2 separate regions of the Homo sapiens genome follow, and region 2 is linked to region 1. Evidence: fine-mapped expression QTL. Tissue or cell type: cerebellum. Region 1 holds a variant in brackets; the other region holds the start of a gene. All regions are shown on one strand. Distances are from middle to middle.

Region 1 (8,101 bases):
AGGAGCAGAGATCAGGACTGGGGTGGGCACCAGAGGGCTGGGGGCAGGAAGGCTGACTTGCACTAGGGAAGCAGGCCCCAGCCTCCAATATCTCCTGTTTATCAATTTCTCCCTATTAAATCTAGTCTTTAAGGGTCCCCTCCACCCCTTCCGGCCATCCCTTCTCTATCACCAGACCCCCATGGGGTCTGCTGTCATTTCCAGGAGAGGGAGGCAACAAGGAGAGAGAGGCACCCAAGCCCACAGGAGCTTCTTGCTCTTTGCAACCTGCTTTCTGCTCCTCCCTTGGGCCTGGGGGAAGGGAGGGGGATGAAGGGGAGGTCAAGGGTCAGGGATGAGTGGGGTACAGGAGGTGTTAATGTGCTGGTTACAGCTAAGTGGGGAGGGGTACCTCAGTCACCATAGTGAAGCGGAAAAACCTCTTCTGGGAAGGGGAGAGGGAGAAAGGAAGAGAAAGTTGACAAAGAGAACAAGGACTGGGTTGGAGCCTCTGTAGAGGGCAGGCTGGAGGCCTTTGCTCCCAGAGCCCCACCAGGCCACCCCTTCCCCATGGCTGTCCCTCTGGCCCCCCTCTGGTGCCCTCCACCCCTGACCTTGGCTGCACTGCGCAGGTGGTCGTAGTACACTTCCTCAATGGCCTGGAAATAGATGACTCCCTTCAGCTTCGTCTCATGCTTGTCTGCAAAGCAAGTAAGGGTGGGCTATGGAGCCGGTCACACTTCAGGTCTAGCTCCATTTACGTGGAGCTCCATGGCCTGAGCTTCCAAATCTGGGAAATGGGGTGAAGATCCTAGTCTCCCAAGACCCCCAAACAGAACCCAATACAGAATCCTAAAGATATGGATAATGCTCAGCCTCACTCATAATCACAGAGAAATACAAATCAGAACTCCACTGAGATACCACTTCTCACCTACCCCAATGACAAAAACATACAACAAATATACAGCACACTTTTGGCAAGTCTATGGTGAAGGAGGCAGTCTAATGACATGTGGGAGTATAAATTGGTAAAACCCTTATGAACAATTTGGCCATGTCTATCAAAATTAGAAAGGCATTTATCTTTTGATCCAATGCTTACATTTAGGAGAATTTCTCTTTCACATATACAAAGTAACACACACAAGATTATTAAGTATAGTATTGTCTGCAGTCACAGAAGATTGGAAACAACCAAAATATCAATCAAGTGGAGACTGGTTAATAAGTTAGTGTGTGTCACATCATGGAAGACTAAATACAGCTGTTAAGTAAAATGATATAGGCCAGGCATGGTGGCTCATGCCTATAATTCCAGCATTTTGGGAGGCCGAGGAGGGTGGATCACCTGAGGTCAGGAGTTCGAGACCAGCCTGGCCAACATGGTGAAACCCCGTCTCTACTCAAAATACAAAAATAAGCCGAGTGTGGTGGTGCATGCCTATAATCCCAGCTATTCGGGAGCCTGAGGCAGGAGAATCACTTGAATCCGGGAGGCGGAGGTTGCAGTGAGCTGAGATCACGCCACTGCACTTCAGCCTGGGCAAAAAGAGCAAAACTCTGTCTCAAAAAAAAAAAAAAAAAAAAAGAGAAAGAAAGAAATATCTGATACAGATACAGACTCAGAAATAAGTCTATAATTTATATCGAGATATAATGTCTAGATATAGATAAATTTGATATAAAATGATCTCTAAGACACATTAGGAGGTAAAAAGAATGTACTGTATGCCACCTTTTGTGCAAGAAAAAGTATTTGTTTATATTCTCCTATAGAAACTCTATAAGGATACACAAGAGATTTATAAAATTAGTTACTGTAGTGGGTGGGGCATAATTCTCAATTTAAACCTTTTTATATATTTTTTATTTTTGAACTATATGAATACTTTTACCTATTTTTTAAAAAAAAAGATAGGAAGCACACTCCCTTGATGTGTACAGAGCAGTTAGCATATACATATAGCATATAGCCTCTGGAGGTCAGAGGTGGCAGGAAAGGGGCAAACTACCTGAGCAGAGGTGACCATTCAGTGAGAAGGGGCAGGATCCCTGTCAAGGGAAAGCACAGGGCCTGGGCCAACTTGTCTGTGGCACTGCTCAGATGCTACAGCTGACATCCTTAACAGTGAGCCTGCGTCCTACAGGAGAGGTCACGCGAATCACTAAATTCAATGGTGCCGGCTGGAAGTAAGTTCCTTCCCGAGTGCTCCTCCTCTCCCCGACCTCTGCAGCTTGGTAAAGGCAACTTACGGACTGCTGCCAACATGTCCCTCCAGCCTTGTATCATAACCTTCCCCTGCATGAGTCCCAAGTCCTATCTGAGCTTCTCACTGTTCCCTTAATAATACACCCTGTATGCTGGAACTATCTCCTCCAGCCCATTTCCTTAGCAAACTCCTAAATGATCTTCAAGACCCATTGCAAAATGTCACCACGACAGTGCACAGTTGTGCTCTCCTGTGTTCCCAAAGCACAGATGCTCCTCTGTATAGAACTTATGCTGAATCTGAATCCTCCTTTATCCATTCCATGGTCTACCTCCCCCAACACAAACAACTATGTGCCTGGCACACAGTAGGTACCCAATACTGAAGGAATGAGTCCTAGACACTGGGATTCAGAGAGAAGTCAGAGACCCTTCTCTTAGGAAACTACAATCTCACAGTGAGGAAAATACAGACACACAGCTATGTAAATAGCTACTAAAGGCATGGCTAGGAACCCCATGAGACCACCTACGCATCACAGGTTGTCATGAGTATTAAATGAAAGAACACATTTAAGGTATTCAGCACAGTGTGTGGCACATAACGTGGCACTGTTATTATATCATTACACTCCTGGATTGATGTCACATGGAAAAACAGATGCTGGATAATGCAGGGGTTCAGAGGAGGGTGGGAATCACTCCTAGTAAGGTGGGGTCAGGAAAGGCTTCCTAGATATAATACGTAATCTGGACTCCATGCAATGAGGGGGTTTCTATCGAGTTGGCAGGAAGAGGGTCCAAGCGGAATAGGCAAGGCACCCATGGCCCTTATCCAGCCACAGGCCCATTTCTGACATTTCCTCCTTGGTAAAGGACCAGCCCTGCCTGGCTCTGGGCCTGCTCAGCCCTCCAGCTCCTGTTCTCTCCCATCCCTTCCTTCACAGGAAATAGTAACACACTCCTGCCTCCGCTTCCTTACCACCCACCTATCCTCA[A/G]TCTTGTGCAGTCTGGCTCCTGGCCCCATGCACAGCAGAAAGCCTTCTCTTGACAAGCTCCCATCCCTGAGTCTAACAGCCTTTGGGCCACATCTTTCTTGGCCTTCCTGCAGCATCCATCACTGCTGGTGACACCTCCTGCTTGTGAATGTCTGCTCCTTTGGCTGGCTTCCTTCCCTGTTTCTGCTCCCATTTCTATTCCTGCCATCTGAACTTAGTCTCCTTTTGTTCCACAGGCGCTAACTAAGGCCACATATGCCAAGCACCAGCCCAGCACCTGGCATGTGGTTAGTGCTGGCTTCCTGTCTCCTGCCCCTTCTCCCTCTGCTGGTCTCTCCTCTTTCTCCTTCCCCACACGGGTAGGCCTGCCCCAGGGTTCGGCCCTCTCCCTCCCCTCTTCTCTGCTCTGCAGTCTGACTGCCCAGGTTCAGTCTTATCTCTGTCTCTTAGGAGCTGTGGGACCTTGGGCAATTTACTTAACCTCTCTGAGCATCATTTTCCTCATCGGTAAAATGGCATAAAAATAGTGTTTCCCTCATAGGATTATTTCAAAGATTAATGAGATGATGCATGCAGAGTGCTTAGCACAGCGCCTGGCTCATGCAAGTGCTTGATAAAGGTGATCTGCTATTACTATTATTCCACCTGATTCAACTATTACTCCACCTCTAATCCTGACCATCCTCCTAAACCTAGATGTCCCAGAGGCACTTCAATCTCAACATGCCTAAAATGGAACTCCTTTCCCCAGGCATGTTTCTTCCTCTCCAAAGTCCCTAGTCCCTCTACCTTCCTGGCCCAGAGAGAAACATGGGACACCTGTGCTTCTGGTCCTCCTGCCTCCTCAAAACACCCAAGACCCAGGGTGGTCAGGGAAGGTTTCTTAGAGGGGCCAGCAGGTGATCAGGGACCAGGTTAGGGGGGAAGTGGGCACTCCAGACCTGAGCATCTCTGGCACCAAACTCTGCAGCCCTTTCCCCTCTTCTGAGCTCCTAGCAGGATTGCTCTTCCCAGCTGTGTGGCTAGGTGAGGCTGTGTGACTGGCAGACAGCCCCATCTATGACTTCTGGACAGAAATGATGTGTGTCACTTCCCAACTAGGACATTTAATACCAAGGCCGGGCTCACTTAAGCCTCTCTTTCCCTCTGCCACTGTGGCCAGAAATGTTCCCAAAAGCCATGCTGAAGCAAAGACAACGCTGATGCACAGCAAAGCCCCCACCAACTCACAATGTGCAGTCGACATGTATTGGGCATAAGGAAGCCTAGTACTTGTAAGCCACTGAGATTTCCTTTTTTTTTTTTTTTTGAGACGGCGTCTTGCTCTATCGCCAGGCTAGAGTGCAGTGGCACGATCTCAGCTCACAGTAACCTCTGCCTCCTGGGTTTAAGCAATTCTCCTGCCTCAGCCTCCCGAGTAGCTGGGACTACAGGCGCGTGCCACCATGCCCAGCTAATTTTTGTATTTTTAGTAGAGACGGGGTTTCACCACGTTGGCCAGGATGGTCTCAATCTCTTGACCTCGTGATCTGCCCGCTTCGGCCTCTCAAAAGTGCTGGGATTACAGGCATGAGACACCATGCCCGGCCTTTTAATTTATTTTTTTGAGACAGAGTCTCACGCTGTTGTCCAGGCTGGAGTGCAGTGGCGCAGTCTCGGCTCACTGCAACCTCTGTCTCTTGGGTTCAAGCAATTCTCGTGCTCAGCCTCCCGAGTAGCTGGGACTACAGGTGCATGCCACCACGCCCAGCTAATTTTTGTATTTTTAGTAGAGACAAAGTTTCACCATGTTGCCCAGGCTGGTCTCAATCTCTTAGCCTCAAGCTATCTGCCCACCTTGGCCTCCCAAAGTTTTGGGATCACAGGTGTGAGCCACTGCACCTGTCCAGCCACTGGGATTTTATGACTTCTTGTTACTGCAGCATACCTTACCTCCTCCTGACTAGGGTATAACACAGCATCCCACGCTCCAAGTGGGAAAAGTACAAGGGAGTTCCAGGGATGGGAAACTAGGCTAGATGCTGGAACGGAGAGAGCTGAGAGAGCAAGAGGGTCTAGTCGGCCTGTTCCTGGGCTATCCTGAGCACTCTTTGGCACTGTTCAACTGCTTGTCTTGGAATCTCTGATGGAATTTGTCCAAGGGGGAGTTCCCAGCCCAACTCTGACCATAAGACCCCATGCTCCTGCAGTGCCTGGATGTCTCCTATCAGCATACCCATTGTGCGTGGTTATCACTCTTGTCTGCTTCCCTGATTATAAGCTCCATGAGAGCGCTGTGGCCATCTTACTCATCACCAGAGCCTAGAACAGTGCCTAGAACTTACTAGATGCTTAGTAACATTGCTGAATGAAGGAATGAATGAATGAACACAAAAATGGAGGTGAACCAGGTACATTGTGTACATTTTCAGGGAAGGAGGGCAAAGCCTAGCCCAAGACTCTGGTCCCCTACTTGGAAGCTTGGCCTCCTTCTAGAAGACCAGCCGTCCTGGGTAACAGAGCCCAGGGATCCTGGCTGGCCCCCAGGGTGGCCTTGTGGGAACTCACCCACATAATAGGAAAGGGTGCGCTTGAGCCGGTCGAAGACAAACCAGCGCTTCTTCCATGATTTAATCTTGCCGCCCATCTTGACCAAGTAGCCACGGCAGACCTGGTAGGAAGCAGGAGTAAGGAAGGACCCAAATATGCAGCCCTTAAGCCTTAAGTGTGTGCCATCGCCTGTGCCTGTATTCATGGGGGATTGTCCCCAACATCTCCTCAGGCCAGCACACCAGGTCCTGGGACAGAGATCTGGTTAGGTGAGGGTAGAGACTGACGCCACTATTCCAACGACCCAGGAGGTGCCTCTCACCACGGGATTCTCCCTCTCCCCAGCACCCCAGGGCCACACACGCCTTGTACCTTGCTGCTGAGCACCACGTGCAGGCAGGTATCAACACCATGGCCCGATGACTCAATATGTGTCTTCAGGTCAAAGTCCTCCTTCCGGATTGGCAGGTAGCGGGTCAGGGGTCGTGCCTGGGAGCAAGAGGGAGGGTCAGGAGAGTCTCCTCTCTTCCCTCATTATTCCCCTGTCCAGGCCCCTTGGCTTCACTTCTAAACCCCAACAGCCTGACATCACACCTCCCTAACCCATGGCGGTCACTGTGGCTCCACAGGGCTTATGGCAAAAGTGGAGACCTACCATGCCTATGTTGACTCTACCTAGGGCCGGGCAAACTGCGAAGTCACTCTGTGCCTCAGTTTTCCCACCTATGACCAAGACACGGCATCTTTGTCTTGCCCTGCCCCTCCTTTCCCTCCTGAGCCAAAGAGAATACAGCAAGAGGCCAGATATGAACGTGGTCTGGGAAGAAAAGCCCAATAAGAAATCTAGTTTCTGACTTCGCATGGGACCTTGTTTGGGTCACATCCCTTCTCTGGGCCTCAGTTTCCTTCCATGTAAAACGCCGGCTTTGAACTAGATAATTACTAAGGTCTACTCTACCTCTGATACTAACTAGAATTCTCAGTCAACCGGAATATTTTTCTACTCTTCCTGTCCCAGAAGAACATTAAAATGGCCAGGAAACATCATATATTATTTAAAGAAAAAAACAAAACACACGACCCCACAGATAGCTGATTCTACCCATCTCCCACACCAGACACCAGTGGCCACTGCAGCAATGCCTGAGCCCCAGGACAGGGGCTAGAAGAGAGACTCCCAGAACAGTCACTGACTGAAGCAGGAAAGGGAAGCCAAGCATTTTACAAATATTCCAACCACGGGGGTAAAATTCACAGAGCTTCTTTTTTCTTTTTTTTTTTTCCTGAGACAGAATTTCACTCCATCATCCAGACTGGAGTGCAGTGGCATGATCTCGGCTCACTGCAACCTCCACCTCCTGGATTCAAGCGATTCTCATGCCTCAGCCATCAGAGTAAGCTAGGATTACAGGTGTGTGAAACCACGCCCAGCTAATTTTTGTATTTTTTGTAGAGATGGGGTTTTGCCATGTTGGCCAGGCTGGTCTCTGAACTCCTGGACTCAAGTGATCTGTGTACCTCGGCCTCCCAAAGTGCTGGGATTACAGACGTGAGCCACTGTGCCCAGCCCCTTCTCATTATTTCCCAAACCCAATCCAGATGACCTATCCCTTAGGATTTATTTTGTTGCACTGTAGGAAATGAGGGAACTGTGATCACTGCTTGGGAAAGATTCCAGGGGACTCCCAACCTGGGGAAGCCTACTAATCAGAAGGGACAGGCTATCTAAGTCCTACAGATTCTCATGGGGGGTTGTGGGAGTTAGGATTTGGGACCAGAGACATGGGCAGATTTCCCAGCCCAAACCAATTTCTCCTTCTGCTTTCAATTGTTCTGCTCAAGTCTCCTGTTTAAGGAGAAAGGGTAGGGCTGGCTTTTGGGCAAGGAAGGATTTCTGTCCCGAAGAGAAACTAGTACAATTCTGTCTTGGAGATGTAAACCAAAAGTCAGAGTGAGGTCATCCACTGATGGTGGGGACTGGAGCTGAAAGGTCCTGTGGGGTGTGGGCCAGCACACCCTGAAGTTCCACATGCAGGAGGGGCAGCAGGGGAAGCAGACGGGAAGGTGCAGCGCAGGCTCATGAAGCGGATCTGAGGCCCTGGAGAGAGGCCAAGGGGAGCCACTCTGATTCTTGACTACCAGCTCCCATCTCTGGGATGCCTGTCCAGACCCTCTTCTCTGACCCCGGATGTCTGCAAGGTGGCCTGCCACATCCTTACAACCCACTACCCCAGCACACAAACACACACACACACACACACACACACACACACACACACACACACACACACACACAACTTGAATAGTCCTGGTGGGTCTGTTTTGGGGTCAATGAGTCCCAGGTAGAATTCTGCTAGTATTAAGCCAACAGCAATCTTTTCTG
Region 2 (8,101 bases), 45 kb after region 1:
TACCCGCCCGCCCGGCCCCGCGGCCAAAAAAAGACCCCTGCGGTGCGCGTCCGGCCCTGGGTGCCCTCCCGCACGCTGGGTACAGACGCCCCAGTGCCGCCCCGGCAGCCGAGTGGCGGAGGCCCAGGTGTCTGGATTTGACGAGCGACAGGCAAGGCCCTCTGTGCGCAAGGCCGGGGCGCCGGCAGGTGACCCCGGCCCGGGCCCTCGGCCTCCTCCCCCGCGGGAATGCGCCGACACCCCAGCCACGCGGGACACCAGTCTGAAGCCCTCTCCGCCGAGTGGAGCACCCAGAGTGAACTCTCGGGGGTCTTGGCCCCCGCCTGAAGGAGGCCAAGGAAGGGCCGACTGGCTCCAGCACCAACGGGCACTGACACAGCTCCCGGGCTCCCACGGAGTCCCAGGACGAGAGGTCCAAAGCCAGCCCCAGAGCACCAGACCCGGCCCTTCGCGGGGCCACTGCTCGGGCGCTCCCCGGAGCCCCGCGGGTCGCCCGGCCTCACCTGTGTCCCTGGGGGTCGGCCTCGGCCTCGGCCCAAGCGGTGCATGGCTGTGGCCAGAGGCCCGCCAGGCCGAGCTGGGGTCCTCTCGGCCGCCGCCTTCGCCCTCCAGGCGCACATCCGCCCTCGAGAAAGGGCCGCCGTCAGAGGAAGGAGTCAGGAAGGGAAGGAAACTGAGGCGGGGAGCCCAGCGGGGGACGCCCGAGTGGGGAGGGGGACGAGAGAACTTAAGGATGAGAAAAACCTGACAGAGATGAATGGGGGTGTGCAGAGGGACGGGGCGGGGAAGGGGAGCCACCGGGATGTGAAGGGGAAAATGAAAGGCAGACTAAGAGATGGGAAAAAATGCAAGCTGGGGAGGGGAAGACCGAGGGCAGAGGATGCGGGGAGACTGAAGAACACAGAGGTGGAGGGGTCGGGGGAAGAAAGGACAGGCGGGTCCTCAAGTGGAGGCGACGACAGACGGGAACACTGGGGATGCGCGAGGGCAGCGGAGGGGAGGCTGACGGGCGGGGAGATGGGGCGAAGGAGAGGGAGGCTGGGGCCCACCGGGACCCCAAAGGCGGAAGAGAGGAGAGATGGGCGGCCCGAGGAGAGGGGGAGCCGGGAGAGCGCGGATGGAGCGAGGGCTGTTGCTTGGGTGTCCGGTGGTGGAAAGGTGCCTCTCCGCGGTCCGCAGGGCCGAGGGAGGGAGGTTTCCGCAAGGTAGCGGCCCCTTGCACCCCTCGGCCTGCTCCTGCCCAGGCTGCCCGCGTGGGACAAGGCCGCAGTGTTGGGCGCCTGCCGCTGCCGCCTGCCCGCCCGCCCCTGACAAGCGGCCTTTCTTTGGCGGGGCAGAGAGAAGGAGCCGCTTGTTTGCGCGGCCGGGAAACGGGGCGGCCCCCACAGACACCGCCCGTTCCGAGCCTGGCAGCTGCGGGAAGGGCGGCTGAATGTGTGTGAGGGGCCGCGTGTGTGAGCTGGGGCTGCGGTGTGAGCTGGGCTGTGTGTGTGACTGGGGCTGCATGTGTGAGGGGGCTGCATGTGTGAGCTGGGCTGCGTGTGTGAGCTGGGCTGTGTGTGTGGCTGGGGCTGTGTGACGGGCTGCGTGTGTGAGCTGGAGTGTATGTGTGAGCTGGGCTGCGTGTGTCAGCTGGGCTGTGTATTGAGCTGAGCTGTGTGTGTGATAGGCTGTGTGTGTGATGGGCTGTGTGTGTGAGCTGGGCTGTGTGTGTAAGCTGGGCTGTGTGTGTAACTGGGGCTGTGTGTGTGAGCTGGGCTGTGTATTGAGCTGAGCTGTGTGTGTGACGGGCTGCGTGTGTGAGCTGGGCTGTGTGTGTATAACTGGGGCTGTGTGTGTGAGCTGGGCTGTGTGTGTGACGGGCTGCTTGTGTGAGCTGGGCTGTGTGTGTGAGCTGGGCTGTGTGTGTGACGGGCTGCTTGCATGAGCTGGGCTGTGTAACTGGGGCAGTGTGTGTGAGCTGGGCTTCGTGTGTGAGCTGGGGCCTCGTGTTTGACTGGGGTGTGTGTGTGAGAGCTGGGGCTGCGTGTGTGAGCTGGGCTTCGTGTGTGAGCTGGGGCCTCATGTGTGACGGGTACGTGTGTGAGCTGGGTTGTGTGTGTGACTGGGGTGCGTGTGTGAGGTAGGCTGTGTGACTGGGGTGCATGTGTGAGCTGGGGCGCGTGTAAGCGGGGCTGCGGGTGTGAGGGGCTGCGTGAGCGCGGGGCGCTTTCCTGTGAGGCGTAAGGCATGGAGTGCGTGGGAAGGCCTCGGCGTGTGGGCGGGTCCGGGTGTGTCTGGGTGGCGTGACGCAGGGACGTAGGTGTGCGAAGTGTCGCGGAGGCGTGCGTGTGTGCCGCGTGGGAGCCCGGCGTGGTGGGGCGCCTGCGTTTGCGTTTGACGGCTGGGGGGTGAGCCCGCCGCCCGATGAGTCAGCCTCGGGAGGCTCCAGGACCGCTGAGCTAACGGCCCAGAATGCAGCCCCGCCCCAGAGCCGTGGGTCCCCGGCAGGGCTGTGCGGTCGCCCGGCCAAGTCCCCACTCGAGCCTGCCTCGGCGGAAGCGCTAGCGGGCGACTCGGCCACCCTGCGCCGGCGCCCCTACCCAGCCGCCCGCCCGCACTTCCCTATCCCGGGGGAGCCCGGATGACTTGGGTCAGCCTCCGCTCGGGGAACTCCGCTAGGGATTCCAATAGGGACCGCGCGGGCGTGGCAAGGCGCCCCAGGCGGCCTCCCCGGCCCCCGAGGACGTGGGGCCTTGGGGAGTGCCTGGGAGGCCCCAGGCGGGCTTCCCATCTCCTGGACACCCCCAGGCAGCCCTCCTAGACGCTCAAGACTCTGAGCCGGACTCCGAATCCCTTCCTGGTCCATCAAGGCGGCCGGCCTGGGGACAGGCGGGGAGACGTCACAGGAGATACCCCCGCCCCAAGGTCCTGCTGTGGGCGGAGAGGGGGAGGTGTGGGGCGCTGGAGGACGAAAACCCGCGCGCGCGCTCGCCGCCCGATACCCCGCGAGTGTCCGCCCGGCCGCCTGGGTGCCGGCGGGAGAGTCTGGATAGGGCCAGGATCAGAGTTTCTCCAAGGGGGGGAGAGCGTCACGGCCCCCTCTGGCGGTGGCGTTGGCAGCGGCCGAGGAAGGCAAAAGCAAGAGGCTCACAGGAAAACTCCCCATAACGCTCCTTTCGCCCCCACGCACTCACCTGGGGTGCCCTCTCTCCCCCACGGGTTTCTGCCGAGCTCCCTAGCCTAGAGCTGATCTCAGGGCTCTCGCCAGGCCCCGGGGACTTCCCCTTATCCAGTCCTAGCACCGCAGCGAATGGGACCCGCAAGTGTAGTGGGACGGGGCGCTCTTACCTAGAGGTGGGGGGGGGGCAGGGAGACACTGGTCCCTTAGCCTGGCTCGGCTCGGTCGCGGTGGCCTCAGGCTTAGGAGGACACCGTTGCTTTTCCCCGGGAGCTCGCTAAGTAGGAGGAGAGCGAGCCTGTCCCGCCCCCCTCCCGCCAGTCCCCGCCCCCGTCCCCCGTCCCGTCCGCCTGGCCAGCCAAAGAAGACGCCCTTGTGGGGCTGGAGCCCAAGGTCCCCCCACCCACCCTTTCCCACAGCAGCACCTCCCCCAGCCTGCACAGCGCCCGCTTTGTTCATCTTTGCAGCTGGGCTCTCCACCATCACCACCACCACCACCACCACCACCACCACCACCACCACCACCACCACCACCACCACACATCCCCCTCTCCTCCCACCCTGCCCTCCCGACTCTCCTAGACCACCCTCCACTCCCAGGCTTTAACACGCTTTTGAGAGGGTGTTTTTGACAATCCGTTCTCCCTCCCCCAAACTCTCCCCTCTTTCTTTTTGCCTTAGATGCCTGAAACCTCCACGGGCTCCCACTGAACCTCCCAAATCGAAGCCCCTACAACATGCTCTCAACATCTCCAGAACATCTACTGAGGGTACCCAGGTCTTCTCCCTGTCACCTCCTCCCCTCGCCCTATTCCAAGCCCCACCATGAAGAGCTGTAAATGACATTGATAGCCACGCACATCAGGCTTCACAGACTTTCTTAAGGATAGGCACAAGAAGACTCGTTAAAGTGTCATGCAAACTCCAAAGCACAGGAAAACCGAATGGAATTATCATCTTGCCCCCATGGAGCTCCACACCCCTCCACCCCGACAGACTTGCTGGATTACAGATTGGGAGATGGAGGCAGGCTATAGACATACAATTGAGCACACCAACCTGTAGTAGGAGTGGGAGTTAATAAGGAAGAGAAGGAGGCACTAAACACCTAAAAGCAGCCCCCAAATTGAGCTAGGTTGAAGTCATTCTCCATCTCAACCTCCACTCCGAAATCCAACGCTGACAGTGGATCCTTACCTTGCAAAGCCAGCTCTTGGTCCAGGAGACTGGCTGGGGAGGCCCTAGGGAGCTGAACTCAGCTGGACTGGACTTCTTTGACCTGCACTAGAGGGACCCTGGAGACTCTTCTTCACTGAAGGAAGGAGCAGAAAGCCTGTAAGTCTGGTCTAAATTCCAGCTGGGGTGGATAGCAAAAAATAATTTATCCTCTTTGAGATGGACAAGTGCTGTTCTAATTCAATGAGTTTAGTTTGTGCCGTCTCTCCCTAACCCAGGAACAGCAGGAGGCTGAACTACAGGAATCTCTGGTCACTCATTGACAGGGCTGGCCTTAGCAGGGGACCCCCCACGGCTGGAGACTGAAGCTGACCGGGGCCAAGCAGCAGACAAGGAGGGGGAGGGGAGAGGCCGCCCTTTGCTGCCACCTGCTATAGCTAATGGAGGTGGAACACTCAAGATCCAGAATATGCTGTGGGTACCAGGAAGTCCTAGGATTTGAGGAGCGAGACTCTAGTTTTTCCTCTCTTCATACTGTTTGAAGTCATGAAAGTAATTCTGATGAACCTTCATGAGGCAGATCACAACAGTAATATTCAGGCTATTTGGGTATGTAAAAAAAGGAAGAAGGAAAAAACCCAAACTGTTGTATCCCATGTGCCAAGACCCAGCACTGAGGGGAGGGGTCCAGATTGCAGTACCTCAGAGGCTTTTCACTTCATTCTGTTTCACGGCCCCCAGCTCCTCTTTACTGTACTGGGCAGGAGGAATTTCAGGGAATAATCAAGCCTGCCATGGAGGCAGTGGATGCTGAGGCAGAGGGTCGAAACAGCACCCAACTTCTCTCACTGACCTCCCAACACAGGGACCAGCTGACCCTATGATAAAGGCGCTGTGCAATGTGTCCTCTCCCCTGCTGTGTCAGGCCTCTATGTTCCCACAGTTAGAGCACTCAGGGGACTAAAGACCTACCGCCCCCACTCTCCATCTCCGCCCTGCTCCACATCTGGAGCCCATCAAAAAACTCAGCGCTCTCTCACAGTTACGCAAGAGGTCGAGCAGCTGGGAGCTCAGGAAAGGGGGAGGAAGAGAGGGAAAGAAAGCAGAAAACAGCTTTCCAGGCCTGCTTCAGACTTTCCGAAGTGGAAGCAGGGGGAGAGGGCAAAGCCTGGGTGTGGAAGGAAGAGTGGATTTTTCTAAGGCCCTTTGCATTGGCTACAAGTGTCAGGAGTGAATTTCCATACTCCTGCTTTTGCCTTGGCACATTCCCCACTTTGTCCCACCTCTCAAATTGTACTCCCTCTAGCCCCAGAGAGGTGATTATTGCTCATACAGCAAGCAATCCTTGTAGATACACACCCTCTTCCAGAAAGCTGTCCGTTTCTGGCCTCTGGATCCTGAAGTCAGGCATCATTGGTGTAGGCGTGGTGGTAGCAATGACCCTGCAGCAACTTGGGGAAAAGTTCAAAGCTCTCTTTTCAGCTGTCTTAGAAATTGCATAGTCTGCTTCGACCCAAAGCTAACATGCATCCAAGCTAAGTGGGAAATTTGGGTAGGACAGAAGACTGGTCTTGTGTACCTCCAAGGCTAAGGGCTTTCCTAATGAGCTAAAAGAACAAGCATTCATTTGGGCAAAAGAATGGGAGACAAGACCTATTTCAATTTCTCTCATTGTCTTGAATTTCTAATGCTTCTTTCAAACAGCCCCTGTCCTGGTTTGGTAATCAATCTGATCACCCAGAGTAAACCTAGGGAAGCTTTCCAGTATTGGTTTAGACCCTAAATAACCACTTAGCCCCTGCCCTAAGAACAGCAGGGCAAAAAAACTGCGGTGGGGGATGGGAGAAGTGGTCCAAGCTTCTGAAAACTGCCTAATAGCTTGACTTGTGATTGTGAGAGGGAAAACAGCCTGGTTTGGAAAGATAGTCTAATTTTTCTAAAGGCCTACCTCCGTATCAATCCCCAACTCCCCAGGATAAGACGTTAAGGCAGCTATTTGTAGTGTTGCTGTCTGCCCTTGGGTAACAGCAATGCACAGCAACCAACCTACTTGTGGATCTTCTAGGACAAGGGAATTGGGGGTAAGGGGGTTGTAATAAGACAGATGTGCATAGCAAAAGAAAATCATTTGTGAGGTTTTGCTTGAGATTCCTCTAGAGCCTACAAGACAGAAGCCATGTTACCTACTCTCATATAGATCCATGTTTAGTACTAGCTGTAGTTAACACTTGTCTAACTTGGAAAAAAAAAGGCTTCACAAGCAGATAGTCATTGCTTCCAGTTAGACTTTAATCTTCTTGAGGATGACTTTTTCCATTTTTCTCCTGTCTCCTTCCAATAAGCCCTGTCAGATGTGAAGTTTAATAAAAAGCTATTCTATATCAACCCTGGAAATCTCAGACCCTAGCCAGTGTGAACAACTTTAAAACTGTTCACAATTTAAAAATTAATTGGAGGGCAAAGTTTCCCATCAGAGATGCATGGGTTGACAAATTTGAAGCTATGGTGAGTAAAGGAATGACAGACCTTAATCATTTCATTCGATTAAGGCTACAGTCTCAGACAGCTAAGCCACACTTGAGCAACATTAGACCAGATACTTTTTTTCACCAAGAAAAAAAAAATCAGAATCTTGGCTTTCAACATTAGAAATTTCTCATCCCAGATACTTAATAAGTGAGAATAATTTGCCTTCCAATTTTTTGACACCCAATAGTTTTTCCAAGTTAAATTTTAAAAAAGCATAAGAAAGTAAGCAGCTCTGGCGGAGCGCGGTGGCTCAGGCCTATAATCCCAGCACTTTGGGAGGCTGAGGCGGGCGGATCACGAGGTCAGGAGTTTGAGACCAGTCTGACCAACATGGTGAAACCGTCTCTACTAAAAATACAAAAATTAGCCGGGGGTGGTGGTGTGGAATGCCTGTAATCCCAGCTACTCAGGAGGCTGAGGCAGGAGAATCACTTGAACCCTGGAGGTGGAGGTTGTGGTGAGCCGAAATCATGTCACTGCACTGCAGCCTGGTGACTGTCTCAAAAAAAAAAAAAAAAAAGGCTGGGCGCGGTGGCTCACGCCTGTAATCCAGCACTTTGGGAGGCAGAGGTGGGCGAATCATCTGAGACCAGGAGTTCAAGACCAGCCTGACCAACATGGTGAAACCGTCTCTACGAAAATACAAAAAAAATTAGCCCGGCATGATGGCGGGTGACTGTAATCCCAGCTACTCTGGAGGCTGAGGCAGGAGAATCGCTTGAAGCTGGGCGACCGTGGTTGCAGCGAGCTGAGATCGCACCACCACACTCCAACCTGGGCAGCTAAGCGAGACTCCATCTCAAAAAAAAAAAGTAAGCAGGTTTATCTGAGGGAATTATCAACAGTTCCCAAAAATTGTTCCCATTATCCCTCATCCCTGGATCACTTCTCATCACGGTCTAATGGGGAAGAGAAGACTCCAAGACTCCAAGATTAAAGATGAAGCCTGACTTTTTTGACTCTCCAACTGCCGTCTGACAAAATTAAGACTCCAATCCCCAAAAAGGCCAGAAGTAGCATCAAATTCAAAAGCTACACTGTCAGGAGTGCATGTATCAAATGTAGAAAAATACGCAAGGAAGCACAATACATATAAGATGGAAAAAGGCAATGAATACTCTCACAGATTACTTTCTCTTAAAAAAAACATGTCATTAATTTTTAATGTTAGGTCCCATTACAGCATCCTGAATCAACAAGCAGACACCAAAGTGAGTCAATAATCCAATAAACATC

What was found. PIP is the estimated chance that this variant, and not a neighbour inherited with it, causes the effect.
Region 2: it holds the start of PHLDB1, and the variant in region 1 is fine-mapped to the expression of PHLDB1 in cerebellum (GTEx, PIP 0.99).

The regions. Positions count from the first base shown.
Region 1 is chr11:118,648,183-118,656,283 of GRCh38, reverse strand. PHLDB1 (pleckstrin homology like domain family B member 1) reads right to left here. Exons shown (of 23, transcript NM_001144758.3): 19 at 6,091-6,207; 20 at 5,737-5,839; 21 at 594-679; 22 at 392-424. Among named protein-coding and RNA genes, the nearest start is that of MIR6716, 8.2 kb to the right of the region's middle. The variant A/G (reference allele first, on the strand shown) is at 3,190.
Region 2 is chr11:118,602,929-118,611,029 of GRCh38, reverse strand. PHLDB1 (pleckstrin homology like domain family B member 1) reads right to left here and starts at 3,415. Exons shown (of 23, transcript NM_001144758.3): 1 at 3,331-3,415. ARCN1 (archain 1 coat protein complex I subunit delta) reads right to left here. Exons shown (of 10, transcript NM_001655.5): 10 at 7,997-8,101. LOC124902765 (a long non-coding RNA gene) reads left to right here and starts at 2,519. Exons shown (of 2, transcript XR_007062908.1): 1 at 2,519-2,907; 2 at 3,842-8,101. RefSeq lists silencers at 129-188, 2,704-2,773, 2,834-2,923, enhancers at 896-1,569, 1,570-2,244, 2,282-2,576 and a cis regulatory region at 6,183-6,378.